Regions from separate parts of the Homo sapiens genome. Here regions 1 and 3 are each linked to region 2. Evidence: fine-mapped expression QTL. A gene starts in region 2. Each other region holds a variant in brackets. All regions are shown on one strand. Distances are between the middles of the regions. Region 1 has its middle 6.6 kb from the start of CYTH1. Region 2 holds the start of USP36 (ubiquitin specific peptidase 36). Region 3 overlaps USP36 (ubiquitin specific peptidase 36).

Region 1 (7,309 bases), 51 kb before region 2:
ATCTTTGCATGACATTTGGAAGCCGAGGCTAATAGACATCCAAATGCAGCCTACTTGCAAGCAGGAGTTAAGTCAGTTTCACTCTCGTATCTTGTATTTGTGCCCCCAGCCCTTGGAGCGTAATGAGAAGGAGCCGGCGGCAGGGAGACAGGAACCACAGGACTCCACTCCAGCTGTGGATTCTAACCCAGACCTCTTCCCCCACATCCACTAATTCTTCACAGAACCTTTAAACTGGGTGTGGGCTCTCTGCAAGTTTCGCTGTGGTTTCTAAGTCCTTAGTGGTTGATCCACTTGACAACTAATTTTTTTAAGTTGGTAGCTCCCTGCGGTATTTGACAGTTTTTGGTTTGGTTTTGTTTTTGAGACAGGGTCTCACTCTGTTGGCCAGGCTGGAGTGCAGTGGCTCATGGCTCACTGCAGACTCCACCTCCCAGACTCCATCGATCTTCCCACTTCAGCCTCCCAAGTAGCTGGGACTACAGTTGCACGCCACCACACCCAGCTAATATTTTATTTATTTATTTATTTTAGAGACAGGGTCTTTCCATGTTGTCCAGGCTGGTTGTGAAATCCTGGGCTCAAGTGATCCACCCACCTTAGTCTCCCAAAGTGCTAGGATTACAGGCATGAGCCTGCTCCTGGCCACCCTCTGGTATTTTCCACTGTTCCTGGCACATACCTCCCTTAGCTCTTGTTACAGTCTTTTGTTATAATGTTGGTTTAGGCCTCAGGAAACAATCTCTCTGGCCTTCTCTTGTTCTTTCACCTGCCCCAAGGCAGGACTTTAATCTTGCCCACCTTTCTGATTGTGGGTCTTAAGACCCTCCCCAGAGAGGGTCCTGCCCTGTGCCCTATGGAAGGAAGCTTCCATAAAAATTTCCATTAAAAAAAAAAAAAAAAAAAGACTGGGCTAGGATAGCTGAACATGTGGAGGTTCCTGGAGGGTGATGCCTAGGGAGGGCTTGGAAGCTCTGTGCAAGGGCCCTTCCCCATCTCTTCATCTTTATCCTTTGCAATATCCTTTATAATAAACCACTAAATGGCCAGGCGTGGTGGCTCATGCCTATAATCCCAGCACTTTGGGAGGCTGTTGTATCACCTGAGGTCAGGAGTTCGAGACCAGCCTGGCCAACATAGTGAAACCCCGTCTCTACTAAAAATACCAAAATTAGCCGGGCTTGGTGGCGGGTGCCTGTAATCCCAGCTACTCGGGGGGCTGAGGCAGGAGAATCGCTTGAACCCGGGAGGTGGAGGTTGCAGTGAGCTGAGATCGCGCCATCACACTGGGGGACAAGAGCGAGACTTCGTCTCAAAAAAATTAAAAACAAACAAAATACTAAATGTAAGTGTTTCCCTAAGTTCTGTGAGTGGCTCCAACAAATTAATCAAACCCAAAGAGCGGGGGTCATAGAAATCCCAAGTTTAAGGTGGTCGCTCAGAACTTCCAGAGGCCCAGGCTTGTGACTGCTGTCACAAATGCAGTCTTGGGGACTGAGCCCTCAGCCTGTGAGATCTGACCTCACTCCAGATAAGAGTCCAAGTTGGACTGGATGAGAGGACCCCCAGGTAGTGTCTGCTGCTTGGTGTGTGGGGATAAACCCCCACGCCTCTGGGCAGAGCAGTCTTCTGTGAAGATTGTTGTGAGGTGAGAGCAGACCATAGTTTGAGAGTTTTTCCCGAAACATTCCCCCTTCAGCTTCCCTGCTTTGCCTAATAAAAAGAATTAGAAAGGTTTTAAGCAGAGGTAACCCAAAATATGTTTTTCCTATGCTTATACCATGGTTTTATTTTATTTATTTATTTATTTTTTGAGACTGAGTCTCGCTCTGTTGCTCAGGCTGGAGTGCAGTGGTGCATGATCTCAGGCTCACTGCAACCTCTGCCTCCCAGGTTCAAGCGATTCTCATGTCTCGGCCTCCCGAGTAGCTGGGATTACACGCACGCGCTACCACGCCCTGCTAATTTTTGTATTTTTAGTAGAGACGGGGTTTCACCATGTTGCCCAGGCTGGTCTTGAACTCCTGACCTCAGGTGATCTACCCACCTCAGCCTCCCAAAGTGCTGGGATTACAGGCGTGAGTCACCATGCCCGGCCCTATACCATGGTTTTAAAATGTCTTCAGGAACCACCTCAAAGTTTATCAATAGCAAACAGGTTAACTATATTAGGATACTTTCATACAAGGAAGCACCCACAGGCTTCAAAAGACTGAAACAGATTTCTGTATTACCAACAGAAGACAATTTCCAAGCTATAAGTGAAAAAAGCAGTCAGAACGGTGGTATATAATACAGAACCATTTGTAATCAAAATCAATGTATACATGCTACTCGTTTACAGGTGTATATTCAGTCGCTGAACAAATCTCCGTTAGGGGCACTGTTCGTGTGCTGGGAACACACAGGTCAATGAAGAGCAGCCAGAAAGCCCCAAGCTCTGGAGGCTTCCACTCTCGTGAATCAGCACCGCTTGATCATCTGTGAGGTAGAGATTGGGAGCCACATTTAACTCTGAGAAGAGAACCTTTCCATACTGTTATGGGTTGAGTCATGTCCCAACAAAAGATATGTTGAAGTCCTAAGCCCCAGTACCTGTGAATGGTGACCTTATTTGGAAGTGGGGTCTTTGCAGATGTAATCAAGTTAACATGAGATCATTAGGGTGGGACCTAATCAAACAGGACTTGTGTCCTTACAAAAAGAGGGAGATTTGGACACAGAACGGAAAGATGGCTACGTGAAGATGGAAGCACAGTGGAGTGATGTGGCCACAAGCCAAGGAATTCCTGGGAGAGGCTGGATTCTCCCCCACAGCCCTGAGGACACCTTGATTCCAGACTCTGGTCTCTCTCTGGCACTGTGAGAGAACATTCCCATTGTCTTAAGCCACCCAGTTTGTAGTCCTTTGTTATGGCAGCCTCAGGAAGCGAGTACATGAAGCTCTGCAAGTTGTGTTTAAAATTGCATATGCATAGGTTATTTTATTTATTTATTTTTTTTTTTGAGACAGAGCCTCACTCTGTCGCCAGGCTGGAGCGCAGTGGTGCAATCTCGGCTCACTGCAACCTCCGCCTCCCAGGTTCAAGCAATTCTCCTGCCTCAGCCTCCCAAGTAGCTGGGACTACAGGTATGCGCCACCACGCCCAGCTGATTTTTGTATTTTTAGTAGAGACAGGGTTTCACCATGTTGGCCAGGATGGTCTCAATCTCTTGACCTCGTGATCTGCCTGCCTCGGCCTCCCAAAGTGCTGGGATTACAGGCGTGAGCCACCGCACCCGGCCCTGGTTCCTTTTTCTAAAACAAGTAATTCTATTTCGTTACCTTTATGTTCTCCCAGCTGGTTGGTGGGGCAGTGGGGGTGCCCAGCTTCCAGAAGGTGCAAGCTGGAGGGTCTCAGAAGAAAGGCAGGACTGATGCCCACCCTGACCCTGTGTGCTACAGGAACAACAGACAGCCCACCCGCATCTGCTAGAAGGCATGAAGGAAGGAAGGGCCAAGGACGAGATGTGGAGGGACTCGGGTCCATGGGGTAGGTATTGCTGAGGCCATCAGAACACCAGACACCAGGACATCATCTACGGCCTCCCCTCCACCAAGGGGAGAATTGTCAGCCACTGCCTGATGTCATTCCCCTCCACCAAGGCCAGAATGCTGCCTCTTGCCAGAGGTGGGGAC[G/A]GGAGGGACACTGAGGACTGAGATGTCTGGGGACAATGCTGGCTTCACGAAAGAGAGATGAGGCCAGGTGCGGTGACTCACGCCTGTAATCCCAGCACTTTGGGAGGCTGAGGCAGGCAGATCACGAGGTCAGGAGTTCGAGACCAGCCTGGCCTATATGGTGAAACTCCGTCTCTATTAAAATATGAAAATTAGCCGGGCGTGATGGCATGCACCTGTAGTCCCAGCAACTTGGGAGGCTGAGGCAGAAGAATCACTTGAACCTGGGAGGCAGAGGTTGCAGTGAGTCGAGATTGCGCCATTGCACCCCAGCCTGGGCAACAAGAGAGAAACTTGGTCCCAAAAAAAAAAAAAAAAAAAAAAAGGAGATGAGGTTTAGCTGGGCATGCCAGCCTTCACTTGCCCAATCACTGTGTGAGTGATTTGTACGCCCTGAGACCAAGCGAAAGGTATGATCTAGAGGTAGCAGCTTTTCTAGAAGCCAGCCTCTGACCCCTCCCACCCAGAAGGAGTAGGCTGAACAGTGGTTAGACAGGCCTTTAATTCAGGGTTCTTCAAAAAGTGAATAAATAGAAGACAGAGGACTCAGCAGCTCTGCCAGGGAGCAAGCCTCCTGGACTTGCTAATTTTGCAGCATAGACCTTGCAGAGAGGGTGGAGCCTGGTGAAGAAGGGGTGTTAATCCCCGCAAGAGGCTGCAAAGCGAACTGCTCACACAGGCTTGGATTGGGGCATTGTCTTGCTTTGAAAACCCCCAGATTTTATTTTGCTAAAGCTTGCAATTTCTTCTGTGTGTAAATGACACTTAAAATCTGTTTGTAATGGAACTTGATTGTATCCAGCTGTCACCAACTGTTCCCTGTGCCACCCAAAAGACAGCTGGCCACGTGCCACGGTTTGGGCGTTCACTTCAAATAGAGGAGCTAGTGCTCTAGTTCCTGCTAGACTTCACCAAAATGTTTTCACTTACGCAGAAAAACAAAGGGGGTGCGGGTAGGGCTCAGGGAAGGCAATGTGAAGGGGAATTAGTGCAGTGTGGACTGCGGAGCCACTGACTTTGATGGACGGTGGGCTGGCTGTTTTCTGAGCAGGGTCCGAATGCAGTCACAAAGTATGCTGCCTTCAGCAGCTGCTCCAGTTCACTCATTCAACAAATATTTACCGGGTGGCTGGTAAGTGCTAGGCCTTGCCAAGAGAACTGTAGCCACATAAGACAGAAAAATGGCAGAATAATACCTTTTTTTTTTTTTTGAGACGAAGTCTCGCTCTGTCATCCAGGCTGGAGTGCAATAGCGCGATCTCAGCTCACTGCAACCTCGGCTTTCCAGGTTCAAGTGACTCCTCTGCCTCAGCCTCCCTGAATAGCTGGGATTACAGGCACCCACCACCACGCCTGGCTAATTTTTGTATTTTTAGTGGAGATATGGTTTCTTTTTCTTTTTCTTTTTTTTTAAAGACAGAGTCTCACTCTGTCACCCAGGCTGGAGCACAATGGCGCGGTCTCAGCTCACTGCAACCTCCACCTCCTGGGTTCAAGTGATTCTCCTGCCTCAGCCTCCCGAGTAGCTGGGACTACAGGCGTGTGCCACGAGGCCCGGCTAATTTTTTTTTATTTTTAGTAGAGACAGGGTTTCACTATGTTAGCCAGGCTGGTTTTGAACTCCTGACCTTGTGATCTGTCTGCCGTGGCCTCCCAAAGAGCTGGGACTACAGGTACAAGCCACCATGCCTGGCCTTTTTTGGCTGGTCTCGACATCTTGGGCTCAAGCAATCCTCTCATCTCAGCCTCCTGAAGTGCTGGAATTACAAGCATGAGCCACTGCGCCCGGCCAACACATTCATTTTAAAATGGCCTTAAAAAAATCACTGGTTTATGTAAAAGAACTTGAATTTCCTACACACATTTCGCAGCAAGTATTTGCCATGTACTTAGACTGTGTGTTGAAATCTGGTCTCATGATGGTAAGAAGCTACCTAAATACCTAGATCCTGCTTAAGGGAGTGGCAATCTTGTGACCTGTTTCTCACTCAATGTCTAATGGATATTTGGCAGCCATGTCCTGTTGCTTCCTCTAATCAACACCCTCCTAAATGAAGCAGTAAGGGAGAAAACCAATGAAAACACGCATGCAAGACATGTATCGTGAGAGTGACAGCTGACAATCATGATAATTTGAATCTAACCTTTGCATTTTAGAGGAGAAAAGCAAATTCATGATGCTAACTCATGGCAGACCCCTTAGAACACAGGTCTTGATTCCCAATCTGGCCTTCTTTTTTTTTTTTTTTTTTTTTTTAGCTGGAGTTTCGCTGTTGTTGCCCAGGCTGGAATGCAATGGTGCGATCTCGGCTCACCGCAACCTCCACCTCCCGGGTTCAAGCGATTCTCCTGCCTCACCCTCCCAAGTAGCTGGGATTACAGGCATGCACCACCATGCCCGGCTGATTTTGTATTTTTAGTAGAGACGGGGTTTCTCCATGTTGTGTCCTGACCTCAGGTGATCCGCCCCGCCTAGGCCTCCCAAAGTGCTGGGATTACAGGCATGAGCCACCGTGCCCGGCCCTGGCCTTCTTTTTATAGGAAGTCATGATTCAAACCTGACTCCAGCCTGACCCTACTTTAATCCCTTTAAAGCAGCAAAAATATACAGCAGTTTCCCCTTGAGAAAGCAACTTGAAGCAACAGTTTGGTACAGATTCTGCTAAGAACAAGCACATTTTTAATCTCAGGCCCCTCTCACAGGGCAATTTCCTCAATGCCTGGAGTGCTTTCTGAGATCCCAGAACAACGGGCTGGACAGCTGCCCAGAGGCCTCTAGGGGGCTGTGGAAGGCTGAAGAGGCAGGGGGGATCTGGATCACAAAATAGAGGAGACTATTTTCTCTGAACAGGAGTGAGAAACCTTATGTTGGGGAATGATTAGATTCTGGTTTCTTGCCTTAAAAGATTGTCCTGGAGGCCAGGCACAGTGGCTCACACCTGTAATCCCAATGCTTTGGGAGGCCAAGGCGAGAAGATTATTTGAGGCCAGGATCCTATACTGAGGGGGCACCTCTTTCAGTGTCTACAGTAGAGATCCTGACAGAGGGTGGATCGGTCGGCTGTTCAGTGGGATGTATTGACTGGATCAGTTGATTCTGGGCTTGATCTAGAGTATGCAGCAAATGCAACAGGCTCACATCTTAGAGGAGCTCTCCAGGGTGCGGAGGTCAACAGTGTCAAATCCTGGGAAGAAGTCGGTGGCAAGAGTGGGAATTAGGTCACTGAGAAGTGATGATGGCAGAAGCTAGACTAAGAACCACAGAGAGTCAACACAGAGCAAAATGAATGTCAACCAAAGGAGAGGGCAGCTGAGAGGGGACACAAGGACACACAGGCTTTTTAGGATGGGAGATGCCTGAACATGTTCCTAAGGGAAGAGTGAGACACGGGAGCAGACAGGGTAATTAATGGAGCAAGGTCCCCAGGGTGGAAGAAGTTGGCCTCAAGGGCACAGGTGGGGTGCCAGCATACACAGAGGGGGCACCTCGTCCAGCATCTCCAGTAGAGGTCCCCACAGAGGATGGGGAACAGCCCCTATACTACAGTTCCTTCCCACTCTCCCACACCAACCACCCAGCCCCTCTGGGAG
Region 2 (7,309 bases):
TGCCACTACAAATAGAGGTGAGCAGACAACAGTGGCCCTGAGGCAGCCAGACAGCCCCTGCCATGTGCATCTCTTCATCAGATACTCATCAAGTGGCTCTGGACATCATTCTTGGTGCCATTTCCTTCCAAAGGTCATCACGTGGTCCAAATGTCTGCTCCAAAACAGGGGCACACTAATTCTCACATACAAACTGGTTATACACACACGGACACACACACACACACACACAAACGGACACACACACACACACCCACGCAATAAATGAATTAGCATGCAGGTCAGATGAGCATGCATGTCTGTACAGACCTGCACTCTTCAATATGAAGGCCACAGGCCACACGTGGCTACTGAGCATGTGAAATGAGGCTAGTCCAGGTTGAGAGGTGCTATAAGTGTAAAATGCACACCAGATTTTGAAGAGAAATACTCACTAGTATAAGAAGAGAATGTAAAACATCCCAGTAATTTTTAGATCAGTTACCTGTTGAAATGGTAATATTTTATATATATTGAGTTAAATAAATTATGAAAATGAATTTCACCTGCTTCTTTTTAATGTGGCTACTATAAAATTTTAAATTATATTTGTGGCTTGTATTAATCTCCATTACACAGTGCTTGGAGTACAAATTATCTTTTTAAAAGTGAGGAAGGAGAAGAAAAGCAAGTAGCAGGCCTAGAGACTAGTATCCATTAGACACCTAAACTTAAACAAATGTCTTCCCAGGACTCTTATCAAAAGAGAAGAAGAAAAGCCAAGCAGGAGAGTGGGGAGATCACAGGCTTTGGAATGTGGTGGCCCCGGGAGGTTCTATCATCCTTAGCTATGAAACCCAGGGACAACTACTATGACTTCTCCAAACCCCCTATTCTACTGTAAAATAGCAACAAAAATAATAGGCTTGGGAAGTGCTTTAGAGCTTGCTACATACTACAGTCCCTAACAGAGGATCGATACTGTTGGTGCAGCTGCATGGAAACTGTAACCAAGAAGAGACCCCTGCACCTCTCCAATCGCTACCTTTGTATCCACCACTTGCCCTCCCCTACCCACCACCTCTCAACTTAACCTTCCCAAACACAGCACAGACTATCTGAGTCACAATTTCAAAAATATGTCCCTTAAATTGCTCACTCACATCAGAAAAATGATGACTTCCTCTGGTATTCAGTACCCAGCCTGCCCTCAGAGAATCAACAAGTCAAGTGTGCCCCAAAATTCTGCTCTAGTGAAAGTAAGGACTTCCTCCAGCACCTCATATTAAGCCATTCAAATTTATCACTGTGGATCATCTAATTCTATACATGGATCAAGTATCTTTTTCTACAAAAACTTCTGTAAAGAAAAGCCAGGTGCAGTGGCCTGGGCCTGTCGTCCCAGATGCTTGGGAGGCTGAGGTGGGAGGATAACTTGAGGGCAGGAGCCTGAGGCTGCAGTGAGCTATGATTACGCCTGTGAATAGCCAGTGCAGTCCAGCCTGGGCAACATCGTGAGACCCCATCTTTAAAACAAAAAAAATCGTGGCTCACGCCTGTAATCCCAGCACTTGGGAGGCCGAGACGGGTGGATCAGGAGGTCAGGAATTCAAGACCAGCCTGGCGAAGATGTTTCTCTACTAAAAATACAAAAAAACTAGCCAGGCATGGTGGCAGGCGCCTGTAATCCCAGCTACGCAGGAGGCTGAGGCAGAGAATTGCTTGAACACGGGAGGCAGAGGTTGGAGTGAGCCGAGATCGCGCCACTGCACTCCAGCCTGGGCAACAGAGCAAGACTTGGTCTCAAAAAAAAAAAAAAACAAAAAACAAAAAACTTCTGTAAAGAAATTTCAGAAGCTTATTTAAAAAAAAGCATTATAAGTTGTCTGATTTGAGAAAATAAAAGAGCCTTTTCTCATGAGAATTATCAAAGACTTCTCACCAACTGAACAATCACTGCTGCGTCACATGCAGACAATTCAACGGAATCAAAAAATACACAGAAGCCTCGCAGACTCACCTGGGATGTGCAGACTTGGGCCTGCTGTCCTACTGCGGCATGGAACCAGGATCTTAACGGAGGGCTGAGTTTGGTTGGGCAGGTGCTACGCGGAGCTCCTGAATGTAAGCGCTCCTGGACTGTGGCCTGTTCAAACACCGAAGCCGCAGAGCGGGCGTCAGAGCCTGTGGGAGGGACAGGGAGACCATCAGTGGAGGCGACTCTTCCTGTGCCTTCTCTTCAGCTACTTCCCAGGGATGCGGCGCGCACCGGGAACCCTCTACCACGAAAAAGCCGTCCAAGGAGCATCCACGCGTGCACTCAGGATGAGGCGGGTGGACCGTACTACCTCATCACCAGTTGTTGTAATGCACACGATATGAACACCTTAACCTTGACCCCAGACAAGCCCAGAGAAGGAAAACCTCCCCAACACCTGCCAGTCAGCTCCAGTCTAATCTTATTTCCAAAGAGTAAGAGGTAATAAATCCCCAAGTTTTGGATTTAATGAACCAGTAAAACTTCAATAACAACAACAACAAACCTCAGGGAGTAATAGGAGTTGCCAAAATTTTGCTTTGCTAAGTGTGGATTTTCTCTTTCATTACCATCTACGATCACTATGATTACATAAAATTAAGGTTCGTAAAAACAGTTTACAGTGAAAACATTCAAACACACAGATGGAGAACCGCACAGGGAGCACATGAGCCCCCCTTATTCAGCCTCAGTAACTACATCTGACCCATCCTGAGTCACTTCCCATCCCCAGGTAATTCTACAGCAAATCTCAGACCTATGACTTCATCCATAAATAAAAGCATACCAACTCCCGAAAAATGTGTAAGGAAATGATCTCAGAATAAAAGCCATCTACAAAGTGAAGACATCCAGTCGTATTAAAAACTCCCCACAATATCACTGCTTTCGGTTAGGACTCACATCTACCCTGGAAGGTGAGAACTCTGTCATGCACAACCAACGCTTGAGAACCACTTAGGGAGGGGATAAACGAACCTTGGGAGATGTAACCCAGTTTCACTCGAGATAAGTAACTTTGAACTTAACCCACTCCTTAATGTAGATGCAGAGATTTTGAACACAATTTTTCAAGTGGGACAGGTCAATCTCTACTTCACCAATTCCACCTAAAACATTAAGCAATAACCTAAACAACGCTCGCTCGCTCTCTGACGTGTAGGAGCCCGAGACAAGTGTTCCTGTAATCACTAGCAATCCCTCCGACGCACACACCATCCACACTCTACCCAACTCAGGAAGGATGCTCTCTCTTGTCCAAGGACAGCACAGGCCTCATCCACATTTCCACCTGCGCGAACCCCAGCCAGCACCATTTAGGCTCATTCCCGCTCCCTCCTCCTTCTAAAGTCACTTTTCCAGGATGAACTGCAACGGACGCTCGCAGGGTCAACCACGTGCTGGGGAGAGGAGCCCACGGAAGCAGCGGCCTCCCGGGGCCCAGCGCCGCGCTCCAGGGGCCTCCCGGGCGACTCCGCAGCGCCTGCCCCGAGCCCGGCCGCGGACACAGCGACCCGAGCACCTCTCCCCGAGCATGGCTCCGTGGCGAGCGTTACGTAAACGGGGGCGCGCGGAGTCTCCCCTCTCGTGTGTCTGGGTTTGGCGGCCGCCACTCCAGCCCCAGGCCCAGGACCCCCACGCCACCCGCCAGAAGCAGCAGCATCGGAACCGCACCCCGCCCCGGGCTCCATGGCCTCCTCCGCAACCACGAGGAAGGTGCCCGCCCCGGGGCCGCACCCGCCCCGCTGAGCTCTGCGGCCGCACGCGACGCCCTCGCCCTGATTCCGACTTCAACCTCTCCGAAGTTGACCTGAATCCTGCACAGACAGCGGGCCCCGGCGACCCCCATCACCGGCCCGGAGCCCGGGGGACGGCGGAGACCGGCGAGGACAGCCCGGCCCCGGACCCTCCTCGGGAATACCCGGGCTCTGGAGAAGCGAGCTCGCGAGCGGGCGGAGCATCCCGGGTCCTCCTCGGGGACGGCCGAAGCCCTGCGCGGACCCGCGCCCACGTTCTCCCTGAGCGTCCCGGCTGCGCCCGCCAGCCCTTCCCGCGCCCCAGGCCTCGCGGAACCCCCCGCCCCGGTCTCGTCCCCAGGCCTGCGCACCGCCCCGACCCGACCCCAGCCTACCCCGGCCTCTCCGCGGGCGCGCCACAAGCCTACGCAGCCCTGGCGACTCCTTCGGCCCGCGGCCCAGCACGCGCACCATCCGGGCCTCCGGCGCCTCACACACGTGTCACCGCGACGCTTAAAGGCGCCGCACCCAGCGTTCGCGCTGCGCTAACTCCGAAAGGGTTGGGAGGCTTTAAGAGGCGGGGCTAGATTCCGCTAACTCCCTGTCCCCGCCCACCGCCGCTTCCGTGTCGCCTACGTCACCTCCCCATCACGGGACCCCGCCAGCCTACGTGATGACGCAAGTGCGCAGAGCCACAGGCGCTCCCGCCCCTGTGCCGCGGCAGGGTGACGTCTCCGCAGCGCACTAGAGGTGCCGCTACTTCCGGGTCGGCCGAGCACACCTGGCGGCGTGGCGGACGCCTGAAGTGTGACAGTGGCGCGCGCCCCCGCCCCAGAACGGGGACTCGAGGGACTTTGCCCACCCCTGCAACAGCCCTCCCGCGCTGTCTCCCGGGCAGGGAGAAGGCTGGGCTCCCCCACCTGCCCCTGGCCGTCAGGTGGCTGTGGAGAAGCGGAGGCGCGGGCGCTCGGCCTTAACGTCCCGGGCTCTGGGGCCATCCGTGACTCCCACACGCGGAGCACCTGCAGTTTGGGGAGGGAGGGATCTGGGAGCGATCGGCCAAAGCCTGGGGCTGCCGAGGAAATGGCTCTTCGGAATTAGGGATCTGAGAGTGTGAGATTTGACCTTTGTAGGCTGGTGGCGGCTGTGCAATCTCTAGCTCCACCCACTCCCTCCAAAAGCTTTGTCCTCTGACAGCTCTGCGAAGGTTTTAGCTGAGTATTTGTGAGCACGTATTTCTTTTGCAGTATTTTTAAAAATCCTCTTGATCTGAGGCAACTTCGCTGGCTTCCTCCCCATTCCCTTGGGCAGGTTGAGAGTGTTGGTTCCTGGCCTGACCTCAGAAACTCAGAGAAGCACAGGATGGGCATAAACTACTTTATCCAAAAGGCAGAACTTTGCAAACACAGTCGTATCTGCTGTGTCTTTTTTGATGTAAGTAGGAATGATGAGTAGGGTGAAGTCACAGGTAAACAACCCAAAACGAATTTCCATGCCCTCCCCACGGATCCTAAAGCAGGGACTGGAGATGGGGAGAGAGGCTAGATGTACTTGGAACAAAATTCACCTTGTATTTATTACCTGGGCGCTGGTGTTTTTTGAAAAAAGCAAACAAGATAACCATATTAGTCTGATGCTGAGACTATGCCCTATCTGTAAGAATCCTTGGGCTGGGCGCGGTGGCTCACCCTTGTAATCCCAACACTTGGAGGCCAAGGTGGGCGGATCACCTGAGGTCAGGAGTTCGAGACCAGCATGGCCAACATGGTGAAACCCCGTCTCTACTAAACATACAAAAATTAGCTGGGTGTGGTGGTGGGCGCCTGTAATCCCAGCTACTCAGGAGGCTGAGGCACGAGAATCCCTTGAACCTAGGAGGCGGAGGTTGCAGCGAGCTGAGATGTCGCCACTGCACTCCAGCCTGGGCGACAGAGCGAGACTCCGTCTCAAAAGAAAAGAAAAGAAAAGAAAAAAAGGCAGGGCACAGTGGCTCACGCCTGTAATCCTAGCACTTTGGGAGGCCGAGGCAGGCAGATCGCTTGAGGTCAGGAATTCCAGACCAGCCTGGCCAACATGGTGAAAACCTGTCTCTACTAAAAATACAAAAATTAGCTGGGTATGGTGGCGCACGCCTGTAATCCGAGCTACTAGGGAGGCTGAGACAGGAGAATCGCTTGTACCTGGGAGGTGGAGGTTGCAATGAGCTGAGATCGTGCCATTGCACTCCAGCAGCCTGGACAACAGAGCAATACTTGGTCTAAAAAAAAAAAAAAGAAAGAAATGCAACGTAGGTCTCTCACGAAATTAGCCCAAATCTTCAGCCATCTTCTACAGGCTGTGAAACCAGGAGAGGAATTGAGTCCATCTTACCTTGACCTCCCAGGCAGGGAGCGGACCAGGTAATTTTTGGGTGACAATACAACTATTCTGTTAATGCACCTTTTTCTTGAGGTAAGTTCTAATGTGATCCGTTTTGGTTACAGCTTTCTATAACAGAATATTTTATTCTTTCATCTTTAATGTTTCTCTAGTTTTCTCTTTTAGGATTTAGAGATCATTCAGTCTCATCTCAAATATTTCAATTTCCATGTGGTTCTTTCATAAACATTTATCCACAGTGAGCCTGCCCTGCATTCTTTGGGTGTGGCTGACAGTTGCAGCCACCCTCAGGTCTGCGGGGGTGGGTGTGTTGCCCCTGAACTGCAATAGCAGAATTTCTCCCTAGCCTGGCAGGGGAGTGCAATCGTGGACTTGCTTTTCCACCCGCTGGGGTTGCATTTCATAGGTGCCGAGTGCCTGGGGGGCCCAGGCCTTTTCACATGAGGGTTTTCAGCCCAGATGTCCCTCCTGCTCTAGGGGAACCCTTCACATCAGTCAGGTGACTTGCTGGACTGGTAGAGCCTCTGCCATCAGCCTCTGATGCAAAACCTTTTCTCAGGTGTCTGTGCGGTCCATGGAGACCCGAGTTCCCAGGTTTGGGAGGGATGCCACTTTCCTTAGGAAGAACAGCAATGTATGTCGTCCTTCCCATCCATGCAGATGGGACAGGGCTCTCAGGAAATCTGCCATTAGCATCGCCCTAGAAGATGCACAGGCAGAGGCAGCTGCTGGGCACAGGCACTTGGGGAAGACAGGAGCCATGACGCCACGCCACCTGTTGGTACCCAAAGGAAGTGGCTCTTTTGGCTGCTTGGCACCATTCTTATGACCCTTCCATTTTGTTTCTAGTCTCAGAAGGGGTGGAGAAAGTCATCCTTCCTAAATGGTGTTGACTCTCAGACATCTGACCGTGCCAGGAGAATGGCTGTGCAAGGCGGCAGCCCAGGCCCGGGCAGGTGGCGGCCAGGAGTTGGGACCACAGAGGGCACTAGCAAGAGCAGCAGCTGCTCCGAGATGCTTTGGCACAAGTCAGGATACGTATTTTGTAGTTTTCTCTTGTTTTTTATTTTTCTGAGGTGGAGTCTCACTCTGTCGCCCAGGCTGGAGTGCAGTGGTGCAATCTCAGCTCACTGCAAGCTCCGCCTCCCGGGTTCAAGCGATTATCGTGTCTCGGCCT
Region 3 (6,047 bases), 37 kb before region 2:
ACCTCACCTACGGGAGAGGCCCATGCCCCAGGACCAGCCTGACACCTGGATGGCCACAGGGGTGGAGGGAACGGCCAAGCTTGGCTGCTGCCATCAGGGGCCCGACCTCCTAAGCCCTGTCCAGGGGGAACCTGGTCCCCATCAGCAACACCGCACAGGTCCACCCAGCACCTCGGGACCAGGACAGCACTCACCACCCTCATCGGGTTCTAGAAACCCTTTCTGAACTCGTCCTCTGCCCAGCTAGCCACATAGCCCCTGGAATATACTCACCTCCCTTCACACAAATCTGACCTCATTTCTCCCTGCCTCCAATTCCTCAGTGAGCTCCAGGCTAAGTGTCCCCTGCCCCCACACAGTGGCTTCCATGGTTCCCATCTCATCCACACAGCCCAGGGACCCGGCCATGCAGAGCAGCCTGCCTGCTCCCAACGTGCTGCGCCTCCTGCCCTTGGGTCTGGTGCCCTGCCCATTTAGCCACTCTCCTCAGGTGCACAGGACTGCAAGAGCCCATGCGGCCCCCAGCGCCTCCTTGCTGAGCATGAGCCCTTACTGTGTGGTTCTGGCTCTGCCAGGGAGCCCCGAGGGCCCAGGGCGCACTTCAGTAGACACAACCAGCACCTGGCATGGACCCTGGCGCACCGCAAGTGCTCAAGTGATGTCCCTTGCACTAACAAGCCAACTCCACTTCGCTCCGAGGGTGGCACGGAGCACAGCTCTGGTGCCATGTTAGGGCAGTATTTTTTTTTTTTTTTTTTTTTTTTTGAGACGGAGTCTCACTCTGTCACCCAGGCTGGAGTGCAGTGGCGCAATCTCGGCTCACTGCAAGCTCCGCCTCCTGGGTTCACACCATTCTCCTGCCTCAGCCTCCCGAGTAGCTGGGACTAGAGGCGCCCGCCACCATGCCTGGCTAACTTTTTGTATTTTTAGTAGAGACGGGGTTTCACCGTGTCAGCCAGGATGGTCTCGATCTCCTAACCTTGTGATCCGCCCGCCTCGGCCTCCCAAAGTGTTGGGATTACAGGCGTGAGCCACCACCCCCGGCCAGGGCAGTACTTCTGAGAGCATGCTGGCCAGCAAACTCAGTCGGCACTAGCTAGCACCCACGTTTTGCTATTTATTTCATACCATTTCATTTTTAACGATAAATTCCTTTCTTAAGAGTTGGATAAATACAAATCAGTCTCTAAGGTCCTGCTGACCCCCAGATGCACTGCCATAATCAGACCTTCCAGACTGCAGAGGAGGCCTCACTCAAGCTCGGCCCCCTATACCAAGCAGCCAGGACTTTCTCTCCCCTTCACTTAACAAATGTGTTCTGTGGCGGGTGCCTGCCAAGGCATGCCCCAGCCAGCCCTAAAGAAAACAAAACACCCTCCGATTGAGGGGTGGTGCCCAAGGACAGCCACAGCACACAGGTCCCCAACAGCAAGCAAACCGTGCTATGTTCTGAATGGCCCAGCTACATAGAGGGAGAGGAGGATTCACTTTTGAACCCAACTCTTCTAAATTCAACCATCACAGAAAAAAACTCAGGCTGGGAGTTCAGGGAGTCATTCCGTGAGAAGCTGTAGACAGAACAGCTTTGAATCGGAAGACCCACTGGCATTCACAGAATGTTTTAAAGTTCATGTGCACTGTAACCTCTCTCATGGGGCTGTTTCAGTCAAATGCTGTGACACATGAGGAAGCTTCAACCCCATCACCCAAGGGAGCAGACTCGGGGGTGGGGGGTGAAGGTTGGTAGGGTCCCAGGGCCCTCCACATCTTCTCCCAGACCCTCCCAAGCTCAGATGCAGTAGACGCTGCTCTCAGCCTGTGCACTCCCCAATACCCCCTCACCCGGTGCACACCCACGCGGTCCCCCACCCCCTTGCCCGGTGCACACCCACGCGGTCCCCCAACCCCTCGCCTGGTGCACACCCACGCGGTCCCCCACCCCCTCGCCCGGTGCACACCCACGCGGTCCAACCCCTCGCCCAGTGCACGCCCATGCGGTCCCCCAACCCCTCGCCCGGTGCACACCCATGCGGTCCCCCAACCCCTCGCCCGGTGCACACCCATGCGGTTCCCACCCCCTCGCCCGGTGCATACCCATGCGGTCCCCAGGACACCAGCCATTCGCGGATGGTGCGCAGCTGCTGGACTCGGGGACAACAGCATCTTGGGGCTTGGCACTCCTTGGGCATTTGAGATGCCCATCCTCTTCTACTGCCCGCTGTGTCTCCTGCTTTCTTTTTTTCTTTTTCTTTTTCCTTGGAGACTCTTCCATGGCCTCTGGATCACCATCACCCATGGGAGAGCAGCTGCTTGGAAGTGAGAGGCAGCAGTCAGCTCTGAGCAAATTGGAAGGGGAGCAGGAGCGCACAGACACCCGCCTGCAACATGGAGAAGGTGCCACCCCAGCTGTGACCCAGTGCACGCAGGTCCCTGCAACATTCTTCCCCCCACACGCATTAGCGGACGCTCCACACGCAGCCACGGAGACAGTAGAGGGAAAACCAGTCGCGTTTCCCATCCTAACTGAGCCAAGCCTGTTGACGCCAATGTGCAGGCTACTGTGACCTGATGAAACGGCAGATCCTGGCCTGGCCCGGGACACCTGATCCAGCATCCTTGAACGGCCCTGCACATACAATGATGGACACTACTGTCCACACCACTGTCGCTTCAAGGATCAATCCACTGGTATTTATCAGAGGAGATATTTTTTCTTTTTTCTTTTTTTTTAGACAGGGTTTAGCTGTCACCCAGGCTGTAGTGCAGTGACGCGATCTCAGCTCACTGCAACCTCCACCTCCTGGGCTCAAACCATCCTCCCACCTCAGCCTCCTGAGTAGCTGGGACTATAGGTGCATGCCACCATGCCCAACCAATTTTTGTTTTTGGTAGAGAAAGGGCTTTTCCATATTGCCTAGGCTGGTCTCAAACTCCTGGGTTGAAGTGATCCACCCGCCTCAGCCTCCCAAAGTGCTAGGATTACAGGTGTGAGCCACCACACCCAGCCAGAGGAGACATCTGATCACAAATCCACATTTTAGAAAACCACGCAAGCAGACTACGTTTCCAGACCATACCTACTTGGGGGTAGATTCTGTGGTTTTGCTTTGTTTCTCGTCAGAGGTAGACAGATGCCACTTTGCTCCTGCCCTTACCTGTGCCGAAGTGGGTCCTGGTGCAGGCCGCCTTCTTCACCAAGACCTTCTGCTCCTTTCCTCCTCCGCTTCCTGCTGCTCGCGTGGTGGCCGTCCGTAACACATCCCACCTGCTGGCCATTCACCTGTGGCTGTGTGCCATCTTCCTGCCGTCTGACAGCGGGCAGCTGTGCCTGGCCCTCCCTCCTGTACATGGGGCTCCCAGGCTGTCTCTGTGTCTGCCCCTCCTGCAGGGCGCTGGCAGCTGTGTCCTCCGGGCGCTTCTTCTTCTTCCTCTTCCTCTTCCCGTGGGGAGCCGCAGTGGCCTCCCTGATGTGCTGTGGGAGGCGCGTCTCTGAGCCCAGCCTCTGCGGCTCTCCCACAAAGGTCTTTTTCCTCTTCTCAGAGGGGCTC[T/C]GGGGGGGCTCACTGGCCTCTGGCAACTGGTGTGGAAGAGACACAAGGTCCTCGTTGACCTGAGGCAGCGCCGTCGAGATGGAGGAGCAGCTCCGTGGTTCTGACGTCCCTGGGGGCTTGGGGGTACTGGACAGCAATGTGGGGTGGGGGCTGAAGGGGGGTTGCAGGCGGCTGGATGATTGGGGAGCAGGTGACACAGCCCTGTGGGGACAGCCAGGAAACAGGGAGAGGATGTTCTGAAAGACCCAGCAGAGCTGTTCCTTCTGTCTACCCTCACTCCCCTCCCTTTCACCTAAAAATCTGAAAAGGCTTTTACCCTGTAGTTTTCAGATACACATTAAGTTACATGTATGTTTGAAAGAAAGCTAACAATTAATTCAACATCTATTTAAATGCAAAGTTGGCCAGGTACAGTGGCTCATGCCTATAATTCCAGCACTTTGGGAAGCCAAGGTGGCTGGATCACCTGAGGTCAGAAGTTTGAGACCAGCCTAGCCAACATGGTGAAACCCCATCTCTACTAAAAATACAAAATTAGCCGGGCGTGGTGGCACACGCCTGTAATCTCAGCTAGTCAGGAGACTGAGGCAGGAGAATCGCTTGAACCTGGGAGGTGGAGGTTGCAGTGAGCCGAATCGCGCCACTGCACTCCAGCCTGGGCGACAAAGCAAGACTCCGTCTCAAAAAAAAAAAAAACCAAAAAAACAAAAACAAAAACAAAAAAAAAAAAACAAAGTTACCTAGGTGGTGGGTTGATAGGTGCAGCAAACCACCATGGCACCTCTGTAACAAACCTTTACATCCTGCACATGTACCCTGGAACTTAAAATAACTGATCCCTGAGATTTAAAAAAAAAAAAAAAAAAAAAAAAAAAAGCAAGCCAACACGTGATTTTAAAAGTCAAAAAAAAAATTTTTTTTTTTTTAAAAGGCAAAGTTAATAAGAATTGTTCCATGCCTTAGTTTCTTGTCACCAAGCAATTCAAGTATTTTTGCGAGCTCTAATGTAAAAACATCTTTAATACAAATGTGTTAAGGGAGGAAACCTTCACGAAACAATAAATGGTAAGGAAAAAAAAGATCCCGTGAGGATTTATTTTCCAACCTCCGAAAGTCTCAGGGTGTTCCCGGGCAGGAAATGAGCCTCATAAGGAAAGCAAGTGTTGAGCTGGCCTAATGACACCTCCACATTACCGTCATTAGGACGCTGAAACCGGGACACAGATGCGTAGAGCAGAATCATGAGCAAGGCGTGTCCGGGACAGGATCTAGTGCCGAACCCAGTGAGGCTCCCTCTTGCCAGCTATGTGTCTCTAGGAAAATTAACTTCCCACTCTGAACCACCATGTTCTCATTTGTCAATGAGCTGGGACCACAAAGCCCACCTCCCAGGGTTCCTGCAGAAAACAGGACCCCCGTCATCATCTAAACAAACTATAAGGGCCATGCCAGCTGCACGATGTTTGATTACTCTAAGTGTCTTCTGGAATCTTTTCCAAAAAAGCTTATAAGGCAAGAAACGAAAAACACCCAAACACTTAAGGCCCTCCCACGTACACAAATCTTATGCTAGGTATAGGGCAGAGGTGTGCTTGTGTGTGTATATGTGAGAGGAGAGTAAGGCAGAGGCTGTGGGCGACGCACAGTCATACCTCGCCCTCATGTAGCACTGGAGATTCTAGAACTAGAACCCAGCGCCGAGGCCACCAGTACAGTCCCCGCAGGCCGCCTCATGACTCACCCCATCTTTCACTGCTTCCGTCCCCACTCCCAGCGGCTTCCAGACAGCCATTTACCAGTTACTCTCAACTTCCTGCCACTCGAGGCACCTAAGAGACGCAGGCAGCCCCTGCGGACCAGGGCCCACATGCACAGGGAAGGGGCTGCATCTCTGGCAGGTGTCTGCAGAGGAACCCGAGAGCCCTGAGACAGTTCTTAACCTGCATGACGCTAGCAGGCAAGACGTCCCACAAAAAACGCTCGGGACTCCGAGCTCACTCAAGCCTCTCGCCAAGGCCTCACTTCGCCTTTCTCTTCGACTGGGAAGTACTGTCATGGGGCTGGTAGGGATACAGGACAGGTCAGTCCCCAGCACACCACATCACCACAAGGATGTCGCAGACAGACCACCAACAAAGACAGAACTAAGACATCAGGACTGCAGAGGCCGAACTGCCTTCACCACCCAAAGCTCCTTTACCACAGGGGAACACAGAAGAGGGGGATCTTGGTCAGTGACGCCCCCCTGTACCTCCTGGCTGCCCCAATGCTTTGTCTGTCCTGTGAGGTTGGCGATTCGTCCAACTCCTCACCAGCCAAGCACACGCAACCACAGGGAGAACCAGTTGGCACCCAGAAGATCCCGGCCCAAAGCTTACCTGGCTCTATGGACGGGCCAAGTGGAGGCAACGACGGGGTGAGAGGTTTTCATGGGGTGGGTGAGGTCGGAGGATGGTGAGGGGGGAGGTGGACGGAGGTCATTGCCGGTCGCCCTCCACA

The links. PIP is the estimated chance that this variant, and not a neighbour inherited with it, causes the effect.
Region 1: its variant is fine-mapped to the expression of USP36 in whole blood (TOPMed, PIP 0.93).
Region 3: its variant is fine-mapped to the expression of USP36 in monocytes after LPS (Fairfax 2014, PIP 0.95). The same link has a PIP of 0.9 or more in NK cells, monocytes and monocytes after interferon gamma.

What each region holds. Positions count from the first base shown.
Region 1 is chr17:78,785,178-78,792,486 of GRCh38, forward strand. It overlaps a transcript of USP36 not described here. Among named protein-coding and RNA genes, the nearest start is that of CYTH1, 6.6 kb to the left of the region's middle. RefSeq lists a cis regulatory region at 1-300 and an enhancer at 6,098-6,267. The variant G/A (reference allele first, on the strand shown) is at 3,680.
Region 2 is chr17:78,836,588-78,843,896 of GRCh38, forward strand. USP36 (ubiquitin specific peptidase 36) reads right to left here and starts at 4,227. Exons shown (of 21, transcript NM_001385174.1): 1 at 4,149-4,227; 2 at 2,000-2,163. It overlaps LOC124904067 (a long non-coding RNA gene), which reads left to right and starts at 4,527. Exons shown (of 2, transcript XR_007065923.1): 1 at 4,527-7,309. RefSeq lists enhancers at 1,681-2,195, 2,196-2,710, 4,305-4,494 and silencers at 3,635-4,154, 4,615-4,714.
Region 3 is chr17:78,800,230-78,806,276 of GRCh38, forward strand. It overlaps USP36 (ubiquitin specific peptidase 36), which reads right to left. Exons shown (of 21, transcript NM_001385174.1): 15 at 5,927-6,047; 16 at 3,156-3,749; 17 at 2,095-2,306. Among named protein-coding and RNA genes, the nearest start is that of CYTH1, 21 kb to the left of the region's middle. The variant T/C (reference allele first, on the strand shown) is at 3,549.